Linked DNA regions of Homo sapiens. The protein of the gene in region 1 purifies or fractionates together with the protein of each later gene. This does not show direct contact. Each region holds a gene or a part of one and is shown in the gene's direction. Other genes may lie near its edges.

Region 1 (3,500 bases):
TATGACACAGTCCAGAGCACCCCAGCTAGGATCAGGTGCCTCTTGTGTGTTCTCACCTCCCAGAGTTACCTCTACCTTGGCCCTTACCTAGTGTGACTTGTATCTCTGTGTTCTGTGTTCCCATCAGACCAGAGCTCTTGGAGTTAGGGTGTGGCATGGTCACTAACATGTTTCTTCCATCTGGGAGATCCAAAGAGTGAGGATGAGGACCAGAAATTCCTAGCTCCCCTCTCACCCCTACACATGGCAATAATGTAAAAAATATTCAGGCCACCCCTCAGCCTCCGACCAGTGCCTTAGGCCCATTAACTTATAACAATAATCTTCCCAGGCTGGACAATCTCCTTCATCCTTCTAGCCCCTGATGAACACCAGGCACAAATCCATGGGACCTGAATCTTAACTACAGGCAGTCGGGGCAGCCTCAAGTCTAGGCTGAGGTCCCTTAATGGGCACGTGAAGGGGGCTGCTCCCTCCCATGCCTATATCCTTCACTGCTCTCCACAGACGTGCACCTCCTCCGGGGCTCTTTTCCCCAGGCAGGACAGGCAACTCCCAACCCAGGTGTAGCGCCTGGCTGGCCGGCAGCCCACCTGTGGCTACCCTCTGCCCATGGCCTACTGGCCTCTGGCACTGTCTGAACTCAGGCATCCCCAGTGCTGCCCGTGTCGCTCAGTGGGCATCCCTACCCTGGCCTCTTCCTGCATGTCTCCCGTGGAAATTTACCCTGGAGCAGAGAGTGTCTGGGGCAGGCAGGGAGGCATGGCCCTCAGACTCACACAGGCCTCACCCTGTCATTAGAGGGCAGGTTTTCCCTCCCAAACCAGATGTACAGACCTGGATTCTGGGTCAGTGTCCACCTCACTGGCTCTGATCTTCCACCACTATAGCCTCTACAGTCACAATAGGACCACCTGTACTCCTTGGTCTCAGCCTGTCCTTCTGTCTCCTCTGCAACCCCTTGGTGACCAGAGCCGGCCAGTGTGAAGTCTCTCATCTCGCCGTTCACATGGTGTCTTTGACCCATGCATCCCAGCAGGCAGGCCTTGCTGCCTGGGCGAGGGAAGGTGGTGGCTCAGGGGCATCTTCAGGGGTGGTTTCTGATCTGGGCAGCTCTGGAACCCATATCCCCATGTCCTTGTTCATCTAGGCCCTGAGTGCATAGAGTCTGTGGCTGAACCAGGCCTGGGAATGAACTAGTGTCTCCTCTTTCCAAGAAGGTTTGTCTGGGTCACCTGCTCTGAATAGCTCTGGGAATGAGAGTCATGTCTTTGCTAAAAGCAGCAACCCAAAGGAAGGGAAAACAACACCCATGGCTCTTCCGAGGCCTCCGAGGTGTTTCGATCAGATACGACCTACTGTGAAACACCACTCAATGGGGAAGAAATATGTGAATGTTTTTTCTGCTCACTGGAGCTCATTAGATTAAGCAGAATTGAAGATAGGCATGTTGAGCTTATTGCTCTTCCATCCCAGCATCAGTGGGTTTGGAATGTTCCCAGACATCTTCAATGCTTCTCTCTCCAAGTGGTAAAACTGAAGATAAGAATTTTATTTTATTTTATTTTAAGCCTTTGAAAAATTAATCCTAAAGTAATATCTGTTTTTTAAAGACAATTTGGAAAATATAGAAAAGTAAGGGGGAGGCAGAGACAACAGAGTTCAGCCATAGTCTCATCACCCCAGCACAAGAGAACCCAACCATAGTCTCACCACTCCAGCACAACAAATGTGCAATAGGAAAACAATTTGTAATTTCCATGATCATGAACTTTGAGGTGAATTTTTAATTCCTGTTCTTCCTAACGGAATCTACGCATTTAGTTGTCTATTTGTCTGTCCTCGAACTTTTTCCCCAAAGGACTCCATGTGAGCTAAGCTAATTTGGAACACATGAAAAAATAGCAAAAGAAAATGGTGAGGGATACATGGGAATGACCCCAAGAAGCCCAGTTATCAACCTGTTCCCATGGGCAGCAATGATGATACTTGGGTTGAATATTCAGTATTAGGACTCTAGGCTCATCTACTTGTAGACTATTCTGGCTTCCATACCCAGAGAGCAACTGGGAAATAGAGTCGTTGCAAAAGGTGTCTAGTGGACTTCATTAGGGAAGCCACAGCCCAGTGGGTGTGGCCGGTACGATATCATGCCGCTGCCTCCACAGGGAGAGCTCCCAGGGAGGTGGTGTGGCCATTGCTTCCAAAGCCTCCATCACCTGCCCATACACGCCAGCTCATTGTATTGGCCTTACTCTTCCAAGAGGCCATGGAAGTATAAATAATAAAGCAAGAAAGGCAGATGCATTTGGCTGGCTCAGTGGACTTCTGAATGTACTGTGAGTATGAGACCTTCCCTTCCAAAAGATCCGGTGCTTCTTGTCTATTCCACACGAAGCTTGCTTCAGATCGAGGGAGGATGTAGCACTGTCCACAGGTGGGTGTATGAAAGGAAAATTCTAGAGGATCTCCAAAATCCAGGTAAACCCCTCTTGAAGAATTTGTTGAACATCTTTGGCAGAGTGTTATGGATGTCTACTGCCCAGTGCTTTTCTAGAGAGAGAAGCTTCATGAATGTGGGGATGGGAGAAGTCTTGGGACATAAGTGGTGCCTCCAATTTGGGTCCACCCCTGCTGCATGATGCTGGCCACAGTCATCCTTGTGTGTGAGCTGTTTGTGAATCTTTATCTCTCTCTGAGGATAGAGGCTGGATCCATCAACTCACTGGTTCATGGAGAAAGTGAGGCGAAGCAGCCTGTTCAATGCATTTCTGCAGAATTGCCTTCACCACTGATGCACACTGCAACCACAATCTCTTCCTTTGTCCACTCTGGGCCTCATTTCCCTCTTTATGGCACAGATAGTCCTGAAGTCAATGATCTCTCAGCCTTTCCAACCCACATACCCCTCCTCCTAGAATGCAGTCACGGAAGGGGAGGAGGACCAGGTCAGGCAAACAGCTGGAAGGTTCTTGAGGGTTTGGAGAAGGCTGTGGGGCTTGTTGGGCTGAGAGTCAGTCTGCAGCATCAATATGGACCATTTCCTGGGCATTGCTCTAGTGCCCCAGTGCCTGACACAGAGTGAGGACTCAAACATATTTCTTAAGGAATGAAGGCAGAAATCTACAGGGCAAATTAACAAGTGGAATGGGGACATGTTCTCCACTCTTTGTTTTCCAGAAAGGAGGAGAAAGTATATTGCTGTGGTCATCAGAGTTTGTTTATGGGGCTTCTCTTACTTCTAACAGGGGAGAGAAGATATGTCTTACCACCACTTAGTTCTAAATGTGCTTTTAAAAATAATAATTTAATTTCTGATGTATATAGAGTGATTTCTTCTTAAAGCAATATCAGTCCTTTAAAACAGGTGAGCCACAGAGCAGGCCTGAAGTGGCTCTTCAAGTGCAGGGCTCTTGTGAGGGTCTTCTGTTGGGAGGCCAAGGCACACCTTTAGCAAGGATTCCTCAGATTTCTCAGCCCAAAGAAGGGCACCGGGTTTA
Region 2 (3,500 bases), on another chromosome or scaffold:
CTTCCATTACTCTGTACTTGAGGCCAGGTGCAGTGGCTCACACCTGTAATCCCATCACTTTGAGAGGCCAAGGTAGAAGGATTGCTTGAGCCCAAGAGTTTGAGACCAGCCTGGACAACATGGCAGAACTCCATCTCTATAAAAAAAAATACAAAAAATTGACTGAGGATGGTGGCACATACCTGTGGTACCCCAGCTACTTGGGAGGCTGAGGTGGGAAGATTGCCTGAACCAGGGGAGGTCAAGGTCACAGTGAGCCGTGATCCTGTCACTGCACTCCAGCCTGGGCTACAGAGTGAGACCCTGTCTCAAAAAAAAAAAAATTGTATTCCACTGATTTTCATTGTGGGAATATAACTGCCAATGTTTACCTGAAACTTTTATGAAGAAAGAAATGGCTCAACAAATTAGTAATTTTCATATAGGCTTCTGGGTTATATCTAAGTGACTGGGCCCAAGGGAGCAGACTGATTGGAAGGACAGATCACGTCAGTGTCCAGCTTTGGTGGGGCCTCCACTGCCCCCAGGCATACTCAGTGCTCTTTGGTTCTGGGTCTCACACTGTCCCTCCTGCCTCTCCCGCAACTCCCTCCCTAACCTGCTTTCTTCTTTCCTTCCTTCAGCTCCATGTTGTATCTTAATTATGGAGACTAAGGCTCTTGCTGTTATTATATGGGCTGGGACATGTTTGCTTCTTATGTTAATATTTAAGTTACAGCATGTGTACAAAAGAAAAAAATCCTGGTTATACACTATTACTATTTTACTAATGCGGAAAATTGAGGCTTAGCAAGGTTAAATAATCTGCCCAGAGTTCACATTGGTTCAGTGGCAGAACTGAGGCTTCAACCCAGAGTGTTTTGACTTGGGAGCTTATCACCACTAGTCTGTATTATGTAAAGGTGAAATAAGCCCGCACAGTTATATTCCTTCTAAACAAGTCATCCTGCCCTAATTGTGAACATCCTGGTGTGTTTGTTAGATCATATACTCCCTTGTGCCAGCTTACCAAACCAATTGCCTACTGTAAGTTGATCTTTTTTGAGGGACAGGGATGGGCATTCTGAAGAGTTGGAAATTTTTTCTGTCAAATAAGTTGACACAGTGTGCTTTGTCCATGAATTAGAGTTTTCTGGTCTGGTTTGTTTAGACAGGAACTTAACTAGTGGAATAATTGTGCCATTGGTAGATCCATATTATAATTGAAAGCAACTCAGATTGCAGAAAAGGAGTGCCCCCCAGCCATGACCCATAAGCAAAGAGGTCAGAAACAAATGAAAAAGCCAAAAGTTTCAAGTATCAGAAATCTCCGTAGGTCACACGCAACTTCCTCATTTATTTCTGTCTATTCTGAGATGGTAATTGTATGAGAAAGCCCTCTATTAATAATAAATTCAGGTTTTTTGACTTCTTTCTCTTGTAGCCTTTCTACCAGGTTTGGCACCGTAGCTGTTCCTAATATTTTATTATTTCAAGGAGCTAAACCAATGGCCAGATTTAATCATACAGATCGAACACTGGAAACACTGAAAATCTTCATTTTTAATCAGACAGGTATGTGGAAGTAATGTGCTGAGGAAGAAGATATTCTATTGCTGGGGGTCTGTGCCTTCTGTGGGTTCTGATCTGCTATAATCCTTAAGTGAAGGATTCAAGACTGACTTTGAGTTGTAAAACTTCTCTTCTAATGAACTGTTATGATCCTGTTAAATACTTCCCAATCAGTATGAAGTTTAACATGAATAGGTAATTTTAATTATTATAGATACTTTTTTTTTCCCTTTTTTTTTTTTTTTTGAGTCTTGCTCTGTCGCCCAGGCTGGGGTGCAGTGGTGCGATCTTGGCTCACTGCAACCTCCACCTCCCGGGTTCACGCCATTCTCCTGCCTCAGCCTCCCGAGTAGCTGGGACTACAGGCGCCCGCCACCATACCCGGCTAATTTTTTGTATTTTTAATAGAGACGGGGTTTCACCGTGTTAGCCAGGATGGTCTCGATCTCCTGACCTCGTGATCCACCCACCTCGGCCTCCCAAAGTGCTGGGATTACAGGCGTGAGCCACCGCACCCAGCCTTTTTTTCCTTTTTTTTGAGGCAGAGTCTCACTCTGTTGCCCAGGCTGGAGTGCAGTGGCATGATCTCAGTTCACTTCAGCCTCCGCCTCCTAGGTTCAAGTGATTTGCGTGCCTCAGCCTCCAGAGTAGTTGGGATTACAGGCGTGTGCCCAGCTAATTTTTGTATTTTTAGTAGAGACAGGGTTTCGCCTTATTGGCCAGGCTGGTCTCGATCTCCTGGCCTCAAGTGATCCACCCGCCTCGGCCTCCCAAAGTGCTGGGATTTTACAGGTGTGAGCCACTGTGCCCGGTCTATTATAGATACTTTATTGTTTGATTGACTGAGACGGAGTCTCGCTCTGTCACCCAGACTGGAGTGCAATGGCATAATCTCAGTTCACTGCAACCTCTGCCTCCTGGGTTAAAACGATTCTCCTGCCTCAGCCTTTCTAGTAGCTGGGATTATAGGTGCGCACCACCACACCTGGCTAATTTTTGTATTTTTTAGTAGAGACAGGGTTTCGCCCTGTTGGCCAGGCTGGTCTTGCACTCCTAACCTCAAGTGATCTGCCTGCCTTGGCCTCCCAGAGTGCTCAGATTACAGGTGTGAGCCACCGTGCCTGGCCTATTATAGATACTTTAAAACAAGTGTTACTGAAATATAATTCACATACCATACACTTTACTTATAACTTTTAACGCACATTTTTCACTTAATATTTACACAAAGATATGCATAAGTCATGAGTGTACAGGGTGATGAATTTTCACAAAGTGAACACCCTGGGTAACCACTCTGATCAAGAAACAGAGCACTGGCTTATGCCTGTAAACCCAGGAGTTTGGGAAGCCTGTGCGGGTGGATCTCTTGAGGCCAGGAGTTCGAGACCAGCCTGGCCAACATGGCGAAACCCTGTCTCTACTAAAAATACAAAAACTAGCTGGGGATGGTGGTGGGTGCTTGTAGTCGCAGCTACTCGGGAGGCTGAGGCATGAAAATTGCTTGAGCCCAGGAGGCAGAGGCTGCAGTGAGCTGAGATCACAGTACTGCATTCCAGCCTGGTTGACAGAGTGAGACTCCGTCTCAAAAAAAAAAGAAAAAAAAAAAGAGAAACAGAACATTACCAGCCTCCCTTCAGCACCACTGCTCCTGCCTTCCCCAAAGATAAAGATAACCACAGTCTTGACTCCTAATATCATAGACTGTGTTACTTGTTTTGGACTTCATATTAATGGAGACATGCAGGATGTTTTATTTTGTGTCTGTTTTTTTCATCCAACAGTATGCTTGTGAGATGCACCTGCATTGTCATGTATGGTTATGTTTTGTTCTTTTTCTTTGCTGCTACTGTTCCATTTATTAATCCATTTGTAGATGCTATCTTAGTTCCTTAATATTTGCCAAAACATATGGCCTTATTTTTTATTGTTTGTAAAACATTGTAAAG
Region 3 (3,500 bases), on another chromosome or scaffold:
ATCCCAGCACTTTGGGAGGCCAGGCGGGCAGATCACCTGAGGTCGGGAGTTCGAGACCAGCCTGAGCAACATGGAGAAACCCTGTCTCTACTAAAAATACAAAATTAGCCAGGCGTGGTGGCGCATGCCTGTAATCCCAGCTACTCAGAAGGCTGAGGCAGGAGAATTGCTTGAACCCGGGAGGTGGAGGTTGTGGTGAGCTGAGATCCAGCCATTGCACTCTAGCCTAGGCAACAAGAGCAAAACTCCATCTTAAAAAAATAAAAATAAAAAAATAAAAGATGGTGAGGGGGGCACAGCAGCGCACAGCTGTAATCCCAGTGATTTGGGAGGCCAAGGCAGGAGGATCGCTTGAGGCCAGGAGTTTGAGTCCAGCCTGGGAAATGTGGCAAGACCCCATTTCTACAAAAAGTTTTAAAAATTGTCTCACCATGGTGATGTGCACCTGTGGGCCCAGCTACTCGGGAGGCTGAGGAGGGAGGATCACTTGAGCCCAGGAATTTGAGACTGCAGTGAGCCATGATTGCACCACTGCACTCCAGCCTGGGTGACAGAGCGAGACCCTGTCTCAAACAAAACAAAAAGATGATGAGAAGTGCTAAGGAGAAGGGAGATGAAGGCCAGAGTTGCTTGGCTGGGAGGGCAAAAGCACAGGCATTCCTTCCATCCCAGCCATTTGTATCTCCTCAGTTCTGTGTAATAACAACATCTCCGAGGGCGAAGGGTATGTGGAGTCTCCAGATCTGGGGAGCCCCGTCAGCCGCACCCTGGGGCTCCTGGACTGCACTTACAGCATCCATGTCTACCCTGGCTACGGCATTGAGATCCAGGTAACTGGACCAAAGCATGTGACTGTGCAGCTTCCAAGCCTTTTCCTCTGGGCTGTGGGTGTGCACGGGTTTGGCCTGGGAGCCAAAGAACCTGTCTGATGACTCAGGTGACCTCAAAAACTCTTCTAGATTTCTACAACTTGGGCAGCAGCGTGGTGCCTTTTGGGCTGCTACACACAGGGCAAAGGCACAGGACAGGGGCTTTGGAAGTCAAACACCTGGCTGACTTGCCCTGGCGGGTCTGTGTCTGGCTTCTCTAGGTGCAGACGCTGAACCTGTCACAGGAAGAGGAGCTCCTGGTGCTGGCTGGTGGGGGATCCCCAGGCCTGGCCCCCCGACTCCTGGCCAACTCATCCATGCTTGGAGAAGGACAAGTCCTTCGGAGCCCAACCAACCGGCTGCTTCTGCACTTCCAGAGCCCACGGGTCCCAAGGGGCGGTGGCTTCAGGATCCACTATCAGGGTGAGGAGTTTGAGGGTGCTGCTGGAAGGGCAGGGGCCATACTGCATACACTGGACATCTTTTTTTTTTTTTTTTTTTTTGAGACAGAGTCTTGCTCTGTCGCCCAGACTGGAGGTCAGTGGCGTGATCTCAGCTCACTGCAAGCTCTGCCTCCCAGGTTCACGCCATTCTCCTGCCTCAGCCTCTCAAGTAGCTGGGACTACAGACGCCCGCCACCATGCCCAGCTAATTTTTTGTATTTTTAGTAGAGATGGGATTTCACCGCGTTAGCCAGGATGGTCTCGATCTCCTGACTTTGTGATCCACCTGCCTCAGCCTCCCAAAGTGCTGGGATTACAGGCAAGAGCCACTGTGCCCGGCCTATAGAGGGGACATCTTTAAGAACCATCGAAGCACAGGGTGCCGAAGGGGGCTTTTCCTCCTGACTGCGACCCTGGGGGGCAGGGCCCTCAGAGGAGACCCATGCATACTTATCTCACACACTCACAGATCTGTGCACACATCCGAGGGACAATTCATCCATTGAATCCAACAAATGTTTATCAAGTGCTTGCTTCATACCAGGCCCTGTGTTAGCCTTGAAGGAGGAATGAACAAACCAGGTGTAAATCTGGCTTCAACGAGCTCAGAATCTAGGTAGGAAGACAGATGAGTAATCAGGATGGTTATAATTCAAGGAGATAAGGAATATGATGGCAGAAACACCAGCGGGGGCAGCACATAGCCAAGGGACCTAAATTTCTCCCAAGGAATATGGGGACATCTTCTTGGAGGAGATGATGACTAAGCTGAGACCTGAAGGATAAATTCGCCAGGGAAAGGGTGGGAGGGAGGGAGAGAAGGAGGGAGGCAGATGGCTAAGTGGATGAAAAAGCACACTCCAAGACCCAGAGAGAGAAGACGTGACCCCCAGATGAGGTGAAGGAATTCAGCATGGAAGATAGAATTGTCCTAGCTGTGTGACCTGGGACAAGTTACTTAACTTTTCTGTGCCTCATGATCTCATCTGAAAAATAGGGATCACAATACTTAGTATTATGGGGAAGATCAAATGAATTAATACATGTCAAGTGTTTAAAACAGTGTGTGGCCTGGCGTGGTGGCTCACGCCTATAATCTCAGCACTTTGGGAGGCCAAGGCTGGTGGATCACCTGAGGTCAGGAGTTCAAGACCTGCCTGGCCAACATGGTGAAACCCCATCTCTACTAAAATTACAAAAATTAGCCAGGCATGGTGGCAAGCACCTGTAATCCCAGTTACTTGGGAGGCTGAGGCAAGAGAATTGTTTGAACCCAGGAGGCGGAGGTTGCATTGAGCTGAGATTGCGCCATTGTACTCCAGGCTAGGTGACAAAAGTGAAACTCTGTCTCAAAAACAAACAAACAAAAACACAAACAGCGTGTGGTACACAGTGAGAGCTCAAAACTGTCAGTCACTGCTATTACTTTCAAAGCACAGAAGCGGGTGAAGGGGAAATGGGCCAGAGACCAGGCTGGGAGGCAGGTCAGATTCAGACCATAAAGAGCCTTATCTGCTTCAGTAAGCAGTCCAGACTACTTCAACCTGCAGGTGTGACAGGCAGATATTTGAATTTTTTTTTTTTTTTTTTTGAGACAGAGTCTCACTTTGTTGCCCAGGCTGGAGTGCAGTGGTGATGACCTCAGCTCACTGCAACCTCTGCCTCCTAGCTTCAGATGATTCTCCTGTCTCAGCCTCCCCAGTATCTGGGATTACAGGCACCTGCCACTACGCCTGGCTAATTTTTGTATTTTTAGTAGAGATGGGGTTTCACCATGTTGGCCAGGCTGGTCTCGAACTCCTGACCTCAAGTGATCCACCCGCCTTGGCCTCCCAAAGTGCTGGGATTACAGGCATGAGCCACCACGCCAGGCCTCCTAATTTGAATTTTATTTATTTATTTATTTATTTATTTGAGATGGAGTTTTGCTCTTGTTGGCCAGGCTGGAATGCAATGGCGCAATCTTGGCTCACCGCAGCCTCTGCCTCCCGGGTTCAAGCGATTCTCCTGCCTCAGCCTCCTGAGTAGCTGGGATTACAAGCATGCCCCACCACTCCCGGCTAACTTTGTATTTTTAGTAGAGACGGGGTTTCTCCATGTTGGTCAGGCTGGTCTCGAACTCCCGACCTCAGGAAATCCTCCTGCCTTGACCTCCCAAAGTGCTGAGATTACAGGCGTGAGCCATGGT
Region 4 (3,500 bases), on another chromosome or scaffold:
TAAAGAATTCAAAAATTCCAAAAGAAGCCAGACATCCATCTTGTTTTTCATGATTTTTCATCCCCTTTGAATATAAAAATTAGCACCAGGACAGAAGACTCTGAATTACCTTTTTTCCCCCCATCTGATCTGGTCTGTGCTTAGATTTTTTGTTGTCACTTTGGCTCTGATGTGATTATTCGCTGTATGAGTGTTGTTAGGCAGTCTGTCCTCTAGGGGGCGCCCCGTTACTGCCAAAACATTTTTTATTAGCGATCATTTTAACCCAGCTGCCCTGAACGCACATAAGGCAGCCCCATGAAGAGAGTAGCTCTTTTACCTGGAGCTCAGGGTACAATGGGAGGAATTGGAATATCTCAGCACCCTGAAAGTGTGAAATGTTCAAAAGATTGGATATATTTAAATTCATAGTTCTAATTTCAGTTTAACAATTTGAGAATGTTTAATTAATTTGCTGTGGGTGGTGAAAATTAGAGAGTCCTACTTTCTAAATAATCCAAGGTGTTGCATAAATTGGTATCTCAGAGGAATAAACTAGCATTTCATTTCAAATTTCAAGTCTTTATCAAGGATTTTACAATTTAAAGTTACACATTTGTTATAGGAAAATTAAATGCTTCACTTTTGTTTTGTTTTGTTTTGTTTTGTAATGCAGAAAAATATGATCCATTATTCATGCACCCTGATCTGTCTTGTGGAACACACACTAGTAGCTGTGGGCACATTATGCATGCCCATTGTTGGCAAAGGTAATGTATATTCTTAATATTTGTCAAGAGAAGTTTATCTAAGGGCTCAATATTTTTTAAATAGAGGAAATTTCATTCTAGAAAAAAGGAAAAGAACTAAAAATGTTGAAAAAATCCGTATCATTGCCTAATAAATAACAAAAGTTATTTGCCTTGTCATAGATGTAAAGTGTATGTCAGATATGTTTTTTAATTTAGCTTTATATCCAAGTCTCTTCTATATCTTCCAAAGAAGGAAGTGGATCTGTATCAGTCTGTGGATGAAGAAAAGGGTTTTTACAGTAGGATAAACTCTAGAAGGGTAATGTTGTCTTTCTTTGGGTCCAGGGTGGACAACTTTTGATTCCATAGATGTTAGTACTTGCTTTGTTACTTCCCAAAATTGTAATGGCTCCCTGTGATGAGATGTCCTGAATTTGTTCTACCTTGGTGTTTCCTATGCTTCTACAAAACCAACAAATCAATAATACTATTATTCTAGAACTATGCTCACCCAGTTATCATGAACTACCCCTAACAACTAGCCACCACATTGTAGTCCCAGCTACTTGGGAGGCTGAGACAGGAGAATTGCTTGAATGTGGGAGGTGGAGGTTGCAGTGAACCAAGATTGTGCAACTGCACTCCAGCCTGGGCGACAGAGCAAGACTCCATCTCAAAAACAACAACAACAACAAAAAAAAAACAAATAGCCACCAGCCTTGGGGAAGTGGCAAGAGAACAATGACACCAAGAAATTTTTGTTGCTGCTTTGTGAATGCTTTTTTACATGGCAGTCTTTTTTTTTATTTTACTCTTTTAGAACTTTTAATCCATTTGGATTTTTAAAATCACTCAAAAATCATGTTAAAAATAATTTAGTTTAAGATTTTCATTTTTGAACTATTTGTGGAAACAAATTATTTTAAATGTTGAAGCTTATGGCTGTCATTTATGTAAATTACCATTGTTTTGATACCTCATGTTCTCTAATTGTAAAGGTATTTTGATTCCGTTCAAGCTAAAGAACAGCGAAGGCAACAGAGATTACGCTTACATACGAGCTATGATGTAGAAAACGGAGAATTCCTTTGCCCCCTTTGTGAATGCTTGAGTAATACTGTTATTCCTCTGCTGCTTCCTCCAAGAAATATTTTTAACAAGTAAGTTTTGGCTCATGACAACTATTACAAAGCAATAGTTTGCTTTGAAGATAATGAAATAATAAATCAAGGAGGAAAACTTAGTCTAGGCAATTGCATAGTGTTTTCCAGATACTTTCCAAACTCTAATCATTTTCTTCTAGCAGACCTGTGGAATGTGATTTTAGTTTTTAGAGAGGAACAGGTGAAAATTTAACAGTTTCTAAGCTATTAAATTCCTATGTATTTATGAAAACCAAGTATCTGGTTTATTTCTAGGGACCCTACTTTTAATATCTTCCATACACTTTTCAAGAGATGCTCAGTAAACTGGTAGAGGGAGATGGAACAACTCAAACTGACTTTATAGGACAGTCTAAAAATCGAATAAAACTTTTTGCTGTACTGGCCATTCATAGTTTTAAGAACCAGGCAAAAAAGTGAAAATCTGTTGGTATATTTTAAATGGAAAAATCTCAGCTGGGCGTTGTGGCTCACATCTATAATCCTAGCACTTTGAGAGGCCAAGATGAAAGGATCATTTGAGCCCAGGAGTTCAAGACCAGCCTGGGCAACATAGTGAGACCCTGTCTGTACAAAAAATAAAAAGTTAGCTGGATGTAGCGGCATATTCCTATAGTCCCAGCTACTTCAGAGACTCAGGTGGGAGGCTCGCTTGGGTCAAGGCTGCAGTGAGCTTTGATCATGCCATTGCACTTCAGCCTGAGTGACAGAGCAAGACCCTGTCTCAAAAATAAAATAAGTGCTTGCTTCAGCAGCACATATACTAAAATTGGAACGATAAAGAGAAGATAAGCATGGCTCTTTCACAAGGATGACACACAAATTCATGAAGTGTTCCATATTTTTAGCTCTTTTAGAATTTGTCTAGCAGACTAAAAAAAAATAAGAAAAGAAAATGGAAAATTTCTGTAACTTCACAGTTTTTTGGATGCTTTTAGTTACGAGTATTGGACATACTCATTTCGAGTATGAATTTGATAATGTCTGCTTTTCGAATCTGAACTTCATTTCTCAATGTAGAATTATGCTATCTACGTTGCATGCACAAATACTAAGTTATGTGAGTATAAACGATCCATTTCTGTGTTATTTGGATTCAGTTCAAAGCAAAGTCAGTTTTTTCTTGTCAGTTTTAGGAGTTCAAACTTTGGTGTTCTTAGTCTATGCTACCACAAAATGTTCTTAAAATATTAGTAGATTTGAGTGTAAGCTCATGCTTTTTAATTATAAAAGAATATCGTGGTACTGACTTATCTGCATTTGAACTGATGAAGAAATTAATTATTGTTAGATGGAGGATTAACTGTGTATAAGAAGAAATCACCCTTGTTGGATTTCATCTGTCACTTTATTGGTCCAATTTTTGGGTTTTGCCCATGAGATTCAATTATGGTTTAGTCATATTCGAATACAATCATAAAAAGAACACAGGCTTTGGAATCTGACAGAGCCAAGTTTGAATGCTAGCTTTGTCCCTTATTCGGCCTTAGTCAAGTTACATAGCTCTAAACCTCAGTTTCCTCATCTGTAAAATGGGGACAATAATAAAACCTATTACAAAATATAGGAATACAACCTATGCAAATAATAATACAACCTGAAACAA
Region 5 (3,500 bases), on another chromosome or scaffold:
TACATTAAAATTTTAGTGATCGGCTGGGCGCGGTGGCTCACGCCTGTAATCCCAGCACTTTGGGAGGCCGAGGCGAGCGGATCACAAGGTCAGGAGATCGAGACCATCCTGGCTAACACGGTGAAACCCTGTCTCTACTAAAAAATACAAAAAATTAGCCGGGCGTGGTGGCGGGCGCCTGTAGTCCCAGCTACTCGGGAGGCTGAGGCAGGAGAATGGCATGAACCCGGGAGGCGGAGCTTGCAGTGAGCCGAGATCGCGCCACTGCACTCCAGCCTGGGCGACAAAGTGAGACTCCGTCTCAAAAAAAAAAAAAAAAAAATTTTAGTGATCATGGTAAGATAAACATTAATATATGAATGAATATTACTGCTTTTAAATTGTTTTTACCCAGTGCACAAAACGAAAATATTTTAAATACTTTTGTAGTTAAAATGCTTTAAATTTTAGGGAATATTCTTTAACAGTTTTCAGTAATTTTAATCATCTACTTTTCTGTTTTATAGTAAAATATTTTTACATGTGTCTAGGTCAAAAAAAAAAAAAATCTCAAGTGACCATGGCATGTTTTAGGTTCATGTATGTAGTTGAATTGTTTATATATTTGTCTGTATTACGTTCCAGAAACTGTTCAGGTTCCATTATCAAAACGAGCAAAATTTGTTGGACCTGGTGGCTATAACTTAAAAAAACTTCAGGCTGAAACAGGTAAGAGTTGTATGAAGTTTGGGGTTTTTTAATTAAATGCTAGACCATAAAAGTTTGCTATTTCATCTCTAGTATGTTGCTTTAAATATATATTTATTTGAGAAATGAGAGAAAGACCAGGAGAAAAGGATATGACGTGTCTTGACTGTGAGTTTTCTGTGTGCCTATTAATAAATTAGCAAATGGTCATTCTTAACTAAATTCAAGAAGGATTACAAAGAATTCATCAGGACTTTTTTGCAACATTTTATAGTTGAACATCTAGAATAATTTTTAGTTTTTAACTTTAGAGGAATTATTACTTAGTTATTTCTTTTTATTCTGCTACTTTCACTTAGTTTTATTTTAACTCTTTTATTTAAAGAGTATATAAAAAAAAGCTTTAATTTATTTTTCCTGAAGCAATGTTTGAATTACCTCGTACTTCAAGGTTTGAGGTTACTGCAAGAGAGTGAGAAGCACTGTCACCTTAGCCATTTGCTAACACTGAGAAACTGATGTGATTTTGTCCCTTATTCATTTATTCACCCCTCGTAAGAGTAAGCGGGAGAAAGAAAAAAAGTAAGGAAAGGGTTCTATTATAGTTTCTACTCGTAATTAAGAGAGCAGAACCAGACTCTCCAAAATTTGTATAGATATATTTGATTTCACTAGATGGTGAATTTCAAGAAATCAAGCATATTGGCTCACCATTGTATCCCCAGGGCCTACCTAGTATAATGCCAGGTACCTAGCAAGTATGCAGAGTGTATTTGTTGATGAATGAATTCCTTCATTCCTAAAGTAATGATTAAATACAGCATAACTCCACCCAGCTACTAATAGGTCCCTCCTATTCTCACATCTATTTTTAAGACGAGTTTCCACTGGAATGAGCAAGTTAACTTTTTTTTTTTTTGAGATGGGGCCTTGCTCTGTCACCCAGACTGGAGTGCAGTACACAATCACAGCTAACTCCAGCCTTGACCCCTGGGATCAAGTGATCCTCCCGACTGTGAGTCCCAAGTAGGTGGGCACATGCTACCAGGTCCAGCTAATTTTTGAATTTATTTTTTGTAGTAACAGGCTCTCCCTATGTTGCCCAGGCTGGCCTTGAACTCCTGAGCTCAAGTGATCCTCCCACCTCAGCCCCCCAGAGTGCTGGGATTACAGATGTGACCCACTATGCCCAGCCAAGTTAACTTTAATATGTTACATTTTGTTTTTAAAAGGTGTAACTATTAGTCAGGTGGATGAAGAAACGTTTTCTGTATTTGCACCAACACCCAGTGCTATGCATGAGGCAAGAGACTTCATTACTGAAATCTGCAAGGATGATGTAAGTATAGATCATATTAATTACGTATCATATAGCTATATTTGTTTTTTCTACTTTTTGTTGATGTTTTCTTTATGAATCTTATGGCTTATTTTGCACTTACAGCAGGAGCAGCAATTAGAATTTGGAGCAGTATATACCGCCACAATAACTGAAATCAGGTAATATCAAGTAATATACTATGCTGAGCATTTTCCTTTCTTTAGAGACAGGGTCTCACCCTGCCACCCACAGTGGGATACAGTGGTGCCATTGTACCTCACAGCTGCCTTGAACTCCTGGGATCAGGCAGTTCTCCCACCTCAGCCTCCTATTTAGGACTACAAGCACACACCACCACACGTGGCTGATTTTTTAATTTTTTTGTAAAGACATGGTCTCACTATGTTGCCCAGGTTGGTCTTAAACTCCTGGCCTCAAGCCATCCTCCTGCCTCAGCCTCCCAAAGTGCCAGGATTACAGGCATGAGCCACCGTGCCCAGCCCTGTTTTGGTTTTTAACAGATTCCTATTATAATCCCAATTTAATTTTACATTTACTTTGAAATCATAAGGTGTTTAGATTACATGCCAATTGCCATATAATCATTATTTTTTAAGGTATAGTATATTTTGTTTTCTATATCATTTTATAAAATTAAAGTAGCAGTTCTGTGGTTCTAATTATGATAGGTTCTCTTAACTGAATTCTTTTTTTTTTTTTTTTTTTTTTTTGGGACAGAGTCTCGCTCTGTCACCCAGGCTGGAGTGCAGTGGTGCGATCTCAGCTCACTGCAAGCTCTGCCTCCCGGGTTCACGCCATTCTGCCTCATCCTCCCCGGTAGCTGGGACTGCAGGTGCCCGCCACCACGCCTAGCTAATTATTTTTTGTATTTTTAGTAGAGACGGGGTTTTACCTTGTTAGCCAGGATGGTCTCGATCTCCTGACCTTGTGATCCGCCCCCCTCGGCCTCCCAAAGTACTGGGATTACAGGCTTGAGCCACCGCGCCCGGCCAACTGAATTCTTTAACCAAATTTTCTACTAGTAATTGGTGAAACCCCAAATTAATTTTCCCAGTAAATATTAAATAGGCCCAAAATAGACTTAGCAATATTTCTTTATTTCTTTTTTTTTCTTTTGATGGCTTATTTTAAACATATCTGAATGCTTAATTGGCACATATTTTTAAATCCAATTTCGGCTGTGCATGGTGGCTCACGCCTGTAATCCCAGCTCTTTGGGAGGCCAAGGCAGGTGGATCAGGAAGTGGGGGGTTCGAGAGCAGCCTGACCAACATGGTGAAACCCCATGTCTACTAAAAATACAAAAGTTAGCCAGGCATGGTGGTGCATGCCTGTAATCCCAGCTACTCAGGAGGCTGAGGCAGGAGAATCGCTTGAAGCCGGGAGGCAGAGGTTGCAGTGAGATGAGATCGCACCACTGCACTCCAGCCTGGGCGACAGAGCGAGACTCCATCTCAAAAAAAAAAAAAGC
Region 6 (3,500 bases), on another chromosome or scaffold:
CTGGCAGGAATTTGGTGCTTTATCCTACTGATGCTTACAGTCATTTATCAAGCAGGACTCTGCCAGAGATTGTGGCTTCCCTAACAGAGGGTGTGGAAACCACCCTTTTTTTAAGCTCCCGGTCTTTAATGCCACAGCCGTTAGGCGACGGCATTACTATACCGTTGCCCTCCTTGGGGGAGGTCTCACAGCCTCCAGAGGAGGTTTGGGCCACAAGTGCAGACAGATACACTGATGTGACCACTGTGTTGAGTCAAAGCCTAGAAGAAACCATCTCTCCAAGAACATACCCCACTGTGACTGCATCGCACGCAGCCCTTGCATTCAGCAGGACACATTCTCCATTGCTTTCAACTCCTCTTGCATTTGCGTCCTCTGCTTCACCAACTGATGTTTCATCTAACCCCTTTCTCCCTAGCGACTCCAGCAAAACATCCGAATTGCATAGCAATTCAGCCCTCCCCGGTCCTGTGGACAACACTCATATCCTGAGCCCGGTGTCCTCATTCAGACCATACACTTGGTGTGCGGCCTGCACTGTGCCTTCACCTCAGCAAGTTCTGGCCACGAGCCTCATGGAGAAAGACGTGGGATCAGGGGATGGTGCCGAGACTCTGTGCATGACCGTGCTGGAAGAAAGCAGCATCTCTCTAATGAGTAGCGTCGTAGCAGACTTCTCTGAATTTGAGGAAGATCCTCAAGTATTTAATACGCTTTTCCCCTCCAGACCTATCGTCCCACTTTCTTCTAGATCCATGGAAATCTCAGAGACGAGTGTTGGCATTTCTGCCGAGGTGGATATGAGTAGTGTTACAACCACACAGGTTCCCCCTGCCCACGGCCGCCTCTCTGTGCCGGCGTCACTTGATCCTACTGCTGGCTCCTTGTCTGTTGCTGAAACCCAAGTGACGCCATCCAGCGTGACCACTGCATTTTTCTCGGTCATCACCAGCATTCTCCTTGACTCATCTTTCTCTGTCATAGCAAACAAAAACACACCGTCGCTTGCCGTCAGAGACCCGAGTGTTTTTACGCCTTATAGTCTGGTTCCTTCAGTGGAGTCTTCACTTTTCTCTGACCAAGAACGTTCCAGTTTTTCTGAGCATAAACCCAGAGGTGCTTTGGATTTTGCATCCAGCTTTTTCTCAACACCCCCGCTGGAACTCAGCGGCTCCATCTCTTCGCCTTCGGAAGCACCTGCGTCTCTGTCTCTGATGCCGAGTGACTTGTCCCCCTTCACATCTCAGTCTTTTTCTCCCTTGGTTGAGACATTTACATTGTTTGACTCTAGTGATCTGCAGTCATCTCAGCTGTCTCTTCCCAGTTCCACAAATCTTGAGTTTTCGCAGCTCCAGCCAAGTTCCGAGCTGCCTTTAAACACCATCATGTTGCTACCTAGCCGTTCTGAGGTGTCACCATGGTCAAGCTTCCCTTCTGATTCTCTCGAGTTTGTTGAAGCGTCTACGGTTTCACTGACGGATTCAGAAGCTCATTTTACCTCAGCTTTCATTGAAACTACCTCCTATCTTGAGTCTTCACTCATTTCCCATGAATCCGCAGTCACTGCACTGGTGCCCCCCGGCTCTGAGTCTTTTGACATTTTGACTGCCGGGATTCAAGCAACATCACCATTGACCACTGTCCACACAACGCCCATTTTAACTGAGTCTTCTTTGTTCTCAACTCTGACACCTCCTGACGACCAAATCAGTGCTCTAGACGGTCACGTGTCTGTCCTGGCCTCTTTCTCCAAAGCCATTCCCACTGGTACGGTGTTGATCACTGACGCGTACCTGCCATCAGGATCCTCGTTTGTTTCTGAAGCAACCCCCTTCCCTCTGCCCACAGAGCTGACCGTCGTGGGCCCATCACTCACACCCACAGAGGTGCCACTGAACACCTCCACGGAAGTGAGCACAACCAGCACCGGTGCTGCCACTGGTGGTCCCCTCGACTCCACCCTGATGGGTGACGCCGCAAGTCAGAGCCCCCCAGAGAGTAGTGCTGCTCCTCCCCTGCCATCCCTGCGTCCCGTGACTGCCTTCACTCTCGAAGCAACAGTCGACACACCAACACTGGCTACTGCCAAGCCGCCATATGTTTGTGATATCACAGTCCCCGATGCCTATCTGATCACAACTGGTAAGGCCCAGCTTCCTGCCGCCTCTCTGGGGTGGGCAATCTTTCTAAGGAGCTTGTGTGCAGTGCCTGTGAGGCTTGGAGCTTCATGGTTAAGAGCAGAGGCGCTGGGCTCAGTTAACTCCCAGGTAGTACTCCTATGCTTACCTCCTGCGAGTTCTCAGAACAGTTATTTATCCTCTCTAATCGTCTGCTGCCTCACCCATTAAACAAGGAGCTTAGTTAAACCTGCTTCATTGGGCTGTTGTTCAGATGTAAATGCGTTAGTCCCTGCAGAACGCTCAGCCCTTGCCTAGTACATCAGAGGCATGCACGGGATGGTGCATATTAGTCAGCAGTCACAAGGAGAATAAATATTAGAACAAATACAAGAACTAAACAAGCCTTGGAAGTTCTTGGTAGGATCTTTGTCCTACCATAACCCAGTAGGTGCATGGATGACATAGTTTAAACAAAATACTTTTTTGTTTAATTCAAGCAATGAGTTGGGCAACTATGTAAGGGCAACCCTTGCAATTTCTTACTCATTTACTCTTCTTACTTTTCCTTGAAAGGAGACTGCACTTTGCTCTCATAGGTCCCTGTAAATGCCCCTTGGGTCCCGAGGAAAGAAAAGTAAAGTGACTCTTTGCTCTTATAGGTCCCTGTAAATGCTCCTTGGGTCCCGAGGAAAGAAAAGTAGTGACTAAATATCCTCTGAATCCAGTATCAGCCTTTGGTCTCCTCCCCACCACAGCCTGGGTTGCTAGCAGACTGGCCAGCAGCTTCCCTTGCAGTTGCATGGCTGCTGTGGCCGCGTGAAGCTGGTGCCCACCTGAGGGCATGCCTGAGAGGTAGACTGATTTCAAGGGTCATGTCCCGCGACGGTGGCCCGCTTGGTCAGGGTCTCTGCATTTTTCCTCATGAGACATGACAGGTGTATGTGGTCTCGAGGGTCATGACTGTGTGCTGAACCACAGCCTGGTGGTGACGAGCAGCCTGTCCTCTGTTTTGATTTTGGTAGGAGTGGAGGACAGAAATGAAAAAGGGGACGAAAACGGCAGAAGAGGTAGGGAGGAGTGGGGTGGAGTGGACCGGGAAGGAGAGGAGCAGAGAATGTGGAAGGGGGAGAAGGAGGAGAACACGCTGGGTCTTTTCCTCTCTGTGGTCGGGGTTGCTGGGAGCCTCTGCTCACTGTGACAGTGCCACATCCCTCTGGGCAGGTGGGAGCGAGGATCCTGATGGCAGGTACACGTCAGTGATCAACACCCTACCTGTGGGAATGGCTTTGGAGAATGAGTCCAGGACAGCCTTTGCTCCCCACACGCCAAAGGGAAACATTCGTTATTCCACATGGCAAGTAATGATTGAGCACCTAGTAT
Region 7 (3,500 bases), on another chromosome or scaffold:
GCCTCGAGTGGGTAGTAGATTGGCTTTTTAGACCCAAGAGTTAGATATTTTATAACCCTCCTTTGAGTAGTTACTGCTTCACTAGCCAAGGGAAGGTTACATGATCAGGAGTGTGGACTTGGGAGATAGTAGGATGAGCCCTTCTGTTCCTTCTGGAAGTGAATTATTTGAATTGGCTACAATTTTCTGAAGGATGCAATAAACAAGATCAATTTCCTTGATAGCTCTGATGTTCTCACTACAGCTCTGAGGGTTGGGGCCACTGTCTCCTCCCACTTAACCAAGGTCTTAGCCCATAGTGATAGGCCAAGGAGAGGCATGGTTCCTTATTTACCTGTCTCATTCATGTGGTCCTAATGTCTCCAGTGCAAAAGCCCTAACCTGTGGGAATCATGTGTTTTAACTTTGCAGTTGCAGCAGGAAATCGAAGACTGGAGTAAATTACATGCTGAGCTCAGTGAGCAAATCAAATCATTTGAGAAGTCTCAGAAAGATTTGGAAGTAGCTCTTACTCACAAGGATGATAATATTAATGTAAGTGCGTTCATGAATACAAGCTTAATTCTTGTGAATTATCAAATCTGTTGAATTAAATGGAAAGACTCTTAATGCCCTTTTACTTCTTTTCTAGGCTTTGACTAACTGCATTACACAGTTGAATCTGTTAGAGTGTGAATCTGAATCTGAGGGTCAAAATAAAGGTGGAAATGATTCAGATGAATTAGCAAATGGAGAAGTGGGAGGTAAGATCAGCCTCAAGGAGGATGGACCCCTTTTGCCTTCCTGTCTTTAAGTGCACCAGTGCTACTTTTCAGCTGGCTGCATTTCCTCTTAAGCTTTCGAGGTGTAAATACATTGGATTTGAATGTGTGTCTGTTTGCATTGGGCAGAGGTGGATTGCTAGGGTGAGGTGTAGCAGTAAGCATGCAGTGAACACTGACTTTGTTTTCACATTGAGACTAGAAGGGTGCACGGGAGCTGCACTGGTCATGTCTTACACCTCTAAGTATTGGACACATACAGTAGTAGAAACTTGTTTTTCAATTTCATGGAGATAACATTTTAAAACTTGTCATCTCAGTAGCTGTGTGGTTTTAAGGCCCACAACTGGTTTTAAGAGTACTGAGGTGGTTGGAGGCATAAACTGACTAAGGCCATGAAAGAAAACCACAACTGGTTTTGAGAGTACTGAGGTGGTTGGATCCATAAACTAAGGCCATGAGAGTGGAGGCTATAGTGTTGCAGTGTTTACTGATGAGGAAAATGTTTCTAGATGCCCTCTCTCAAGTTGGATATTGCTTGTGTAGTGGGTGTTTTAAACCACACCTGGTAGTAGATTCTGGAGGAGAATAGGAGGGAATCTTTCTGAATAAGACACTAAGCCCAGATGGAAGAAAGAGCTTTATCTCACATGTTTCTTCTTGCTCAATAATGGCATGTATAACATGTTTATTGTACAAATGGGAATTCACTTTTTCAGTCTTAAGTTTGCAGTTCTCTTAAAAGTCAGTCTAATCCTTTTCTGTTTTTGTTTGTTCTTTAAATGTTTGAACATGACAATTGTTTAGTTTTGGGTAAATCAAGAAAATATAGATTTAAAAAGCAAGGGAAGAAAAAGCAATGAAAGAAAGCCTTTTGTTTTTTAGGTGACCGGAATGAGAAGATGAAAAATCAAATTAAGCAGATGATGGATGTCTCTCGGGTATAATCGTTTTTAGAGTCCCATAATTGCCTGTGAATACTTTTACTATGCCTCACTTTTATGAATACTTGTCTCTTCTGCAATTTTTAGACACAGACTGCAATATCGGTAGTTGAAGAGGATCTAAAGCTTTTACAGCTTAAGCTAAGAGCCTCCGTGTCCACTAAATGTAACCTGGAAGGTAGGTTGCTTCTTGAGAAGAAATTGCTATATATTGGAAAGATACAAAATTGCATTAGAAAGATAAAGAGCGGCTTCCTGCTTTCATACTTCTCATTTCTCTCAGCACCAGCCCCCAACCAAGTTCTCAAGTTCTTGTGCACACATATGGAACTCAAATGTTTTATCCTTTACAGACCAGGTAAAGAAATTGGAAGATGACCGCAACTCACTACAAGCTGCCAAAGCTGGACTGGAAGATGAATGCAAAACCTTGAGGCAGAAAGTGGAGATTCTGAATGAGCTCTATCAGCAGAAGGAGATGGCTTTGCAAAAGTAAGATTATCATCATTTACTGTTAACTGTATTGTCATGTCAGTAAATAAATGTGTACTAATATAGATAATGTTATCGTTTTTCAGGATTGTACTCTTTTGCATCTGTAATTAGTATAAATTTGTCTTTCTTTCTTTCTGCTTTGTTTCTCATAAGCTGCATTTTTCTTTCCTTTCTAACCAGTAGTCAAAAACTGTTGCCTGTAACTCACTTAAGGGGGAGCAGTGTACTGGTACTGACGGTCGCTGCTGTGGGAGTGCTTCTCTTTTGAAGATCTGGCCATGCCTTGTCTGTGGCTCCGCCACTTGTTTCACTTTCCTTTCTTTGTGGTCAATTATGTAATTTCCTTTAAACAGTCTGAGGGATTTGTATGACGTGTTTTAGTAGAATAAAAACTTCAAAAAAGGAAAATTTACTTATTGAAGGTACATTTAGTTTTGGACTTCACAGAGTAAAATATTCAAACTAAACATAATTGTGGCAAAGATATTAGGAGTTTTGAATGTAGAACTATTTGGTGTGTATATTTAGATAATAATCCTCTGAAATACATATCTCAAATTTCGAGCGAGGTACCTTTTGAGAGGTATATTTTTATAGTTCAAGTTTTTTGTCCACAAAAACATCTGAATTCTCTAAAAATAGGTTATCTGTGGCAGTTGCTATTTGTGTTTGCTCTTATGTTTTACTCTTTGGTGTATATGGCAGTGTGTGAGGAGGCCTCTCTTGCTAAGCAAATTTAACTTTTTTAAATGCTTAGACTGCTACTGCTGTATGCCATTAAATATTGAAACCATACCATTAACTTTTTCTCTAATTCTTTGCTCACCAGGCAGCCAGTTTAGATTTTCCAGGTTTTGTTCAGGCCAGCTCTAAATAAATGCCTGTCCTGCTTCAGAGAGACATTCCTCATTTCATTACTTTTTAAAAAAGAGCACTTCTCTGCCTCCAATAGTAATGTGAATTACGTAAATGGCAACTGTTTTTCTTCGTGATACAGTTAACCCATTGATGTGGCAGTGTTTTATTCAACTTCCCCAAAATTCATTCAGTCTCCATGTGTGGTTTGTACTCTACTGTCCACCCCTAAAGTCACTGTGTTAATTCAGGCCCTTGTCATCTTTTATGCCAGTCCCCTAGCTAATCACGTATCTCCAGACTTTCTTTCCCTTTTTTTTTTTTTTTTTTTTTTTTGAGACAGAGTCTCACTCTGCCGCCCAGGCTGGAGTGCAGTGGCGTGGTCTCAGCTTACTGCAAGCTCCGCCTCCCAGGTTCATGCCATTCTCCTGCCTCAGTCTCCCGA

Evidence for each region.
Region 2: the proteins of SERPINA12 (region 1) and TXNDC15 purify together in Homo sapiens (co-immunoprecipitation; 3 studies listed by BioGRID and IntAct, with this or other methods). This does not show direct contact.
Region 3: the proteins of SERPINA12 (region 1) and SEZ6L2 purify together in Homo sapiens (affinity purification with mass spectrometry; 2 studies listed by BioGRID and IntAct, with this or other methods). This does not show direct contact.
Region 4: the proteins of SERPINA12 (region 1) and UBR2 purify together in Homo sapiens (co-immunoprecipitation; one large-scale study listed by IntAct). This does not show direct contact.
Region 5: the proteins of SERPINA12 (region 1) and PNPT1 purify together in Homo sapiens (co-immunoprecipitation; 3 studies listed by BioGRID and IntAct, with this or other methods). This does not show direct contact.
Region 6: the proteins of SERPINA12 (region 1) and KIAA1549 purify together in Homo sapiens (affinity purification with mass spectrometry; 2 studies listed by BioGRID and IntAct, with this or other methods). This does not show direct contact.
Region 7: the proteins of SERPINA12 (region 1) and MIA3 purify together in Homo sapiens (co-immunoprecipitation; 3 studies listed by BioGRID and IntAct, with this or other methods). This does not show direct contact.

The regions. Positions count from the first base shown.
Region 1 is NC_000014.9:94,502,970-94,506,469, reverse strand, and holds part of SERPINA12 (serpin A12 precursor), read left to right. Parts: intron 1-2,247; exon of another isoform or gene 2,248-2,437; intron 2,438-3,500. UniProt on the Homo sapiens protein: Adipokine that modulates insulin action by specifically inhibiting its target protease KLK7 in white adipose tissues.
Region 2 is NC_000005.10:134,894,871-134,898,370, forward strand, and holds part of TXNDC15 (thioredoxin domain-containing protein 15 isoform 1 precursor), read left to right. Parts: intron 1-1,423; coding exon 1,424-1,554; intron 1,555-3,500. UniProt on the Homo sapiens protein: Acts as a positive regulator of ciliary hedgehog signaling. Involved in ciliogenesis.
Region 3 is NC_000016.10:29,893,051-29,896,550, reverse strand, and holds part of SEZ6L2 (seizure 6-like protein 2 isoform 5 precursor), read left to right. Parts: intron 1-690; coding exon 691-830; intron 831-1,090; coding exon 1,091-1,292; intron 1,293-3,500. UniProt on the Homo sapiens protein: May contribute to specialized endoplasmic reticulum functions in neurons.
Region 4 is NC_000006.12:42,661,529-42,665,028, forward strand, and holds part of UBR2 (E3 ubiquitin-protein ligase UBR2), read left to right. Parts: intron 1-655; coding exon 656-749; intron 750-1,729; coding exon 1,730-1,891; intron 1,892-3,500. UniProt on the Homo sapiens protein: E3 ubiquitin-protein ligase which is a component of the N-end rule pathway.
Region 5 is NC_000002.12:55,641,845-55,645,344, reverse strand, and holds part of PNPT1 (polyribonucleotide nucleotidyltransferase 1, mitochondrial precursor), read left to right. Parts: intron 1-624; coding exon 625-708; intron 709-1,919; coding exon 1,920-2,026; intron 2,027-2,131; coding exon 2,132-2,187; intron 2,188-3,500. UniProt on the Homo sapiens protein: RNA-binding protein implicated in numerous RNA metabolic processes. Catalyzes the phosphorolysis of single-stranded polyribonucleotides processively in the 3'-to-5' direction. Mitochondrial intermembrane factor with RNA-processing exoribonulease activity.
Region 6 is NC_000007.14:138,915,390-138,918,889, reverse strand, and holds part of KIAA1549 (UPF0606 protein KIAA1549), read left to right. Parts: coding exon 1-2,142; intron 2,143-3,500. UniProt on the Homo sapiens protein: May play a role in photoreceptor function.
Region 7 is NC_000001.11:222,652,597-222,656,096, forward strand, and holds part of MIA3 (transport and Golgi organization protein 1 homolog isoform 1 precursor), read left to right. Parts: intron 1-411; coding exon 412-534; intron 535-631; coding exon 632-743; intron 744-1,646; coding exon 1,647-1,702; intron 1,703-1,792; coding exon 1,793-1,883; intron 1,884-2,058; coding exon 2,059-2,197; intron 2,198-3,500.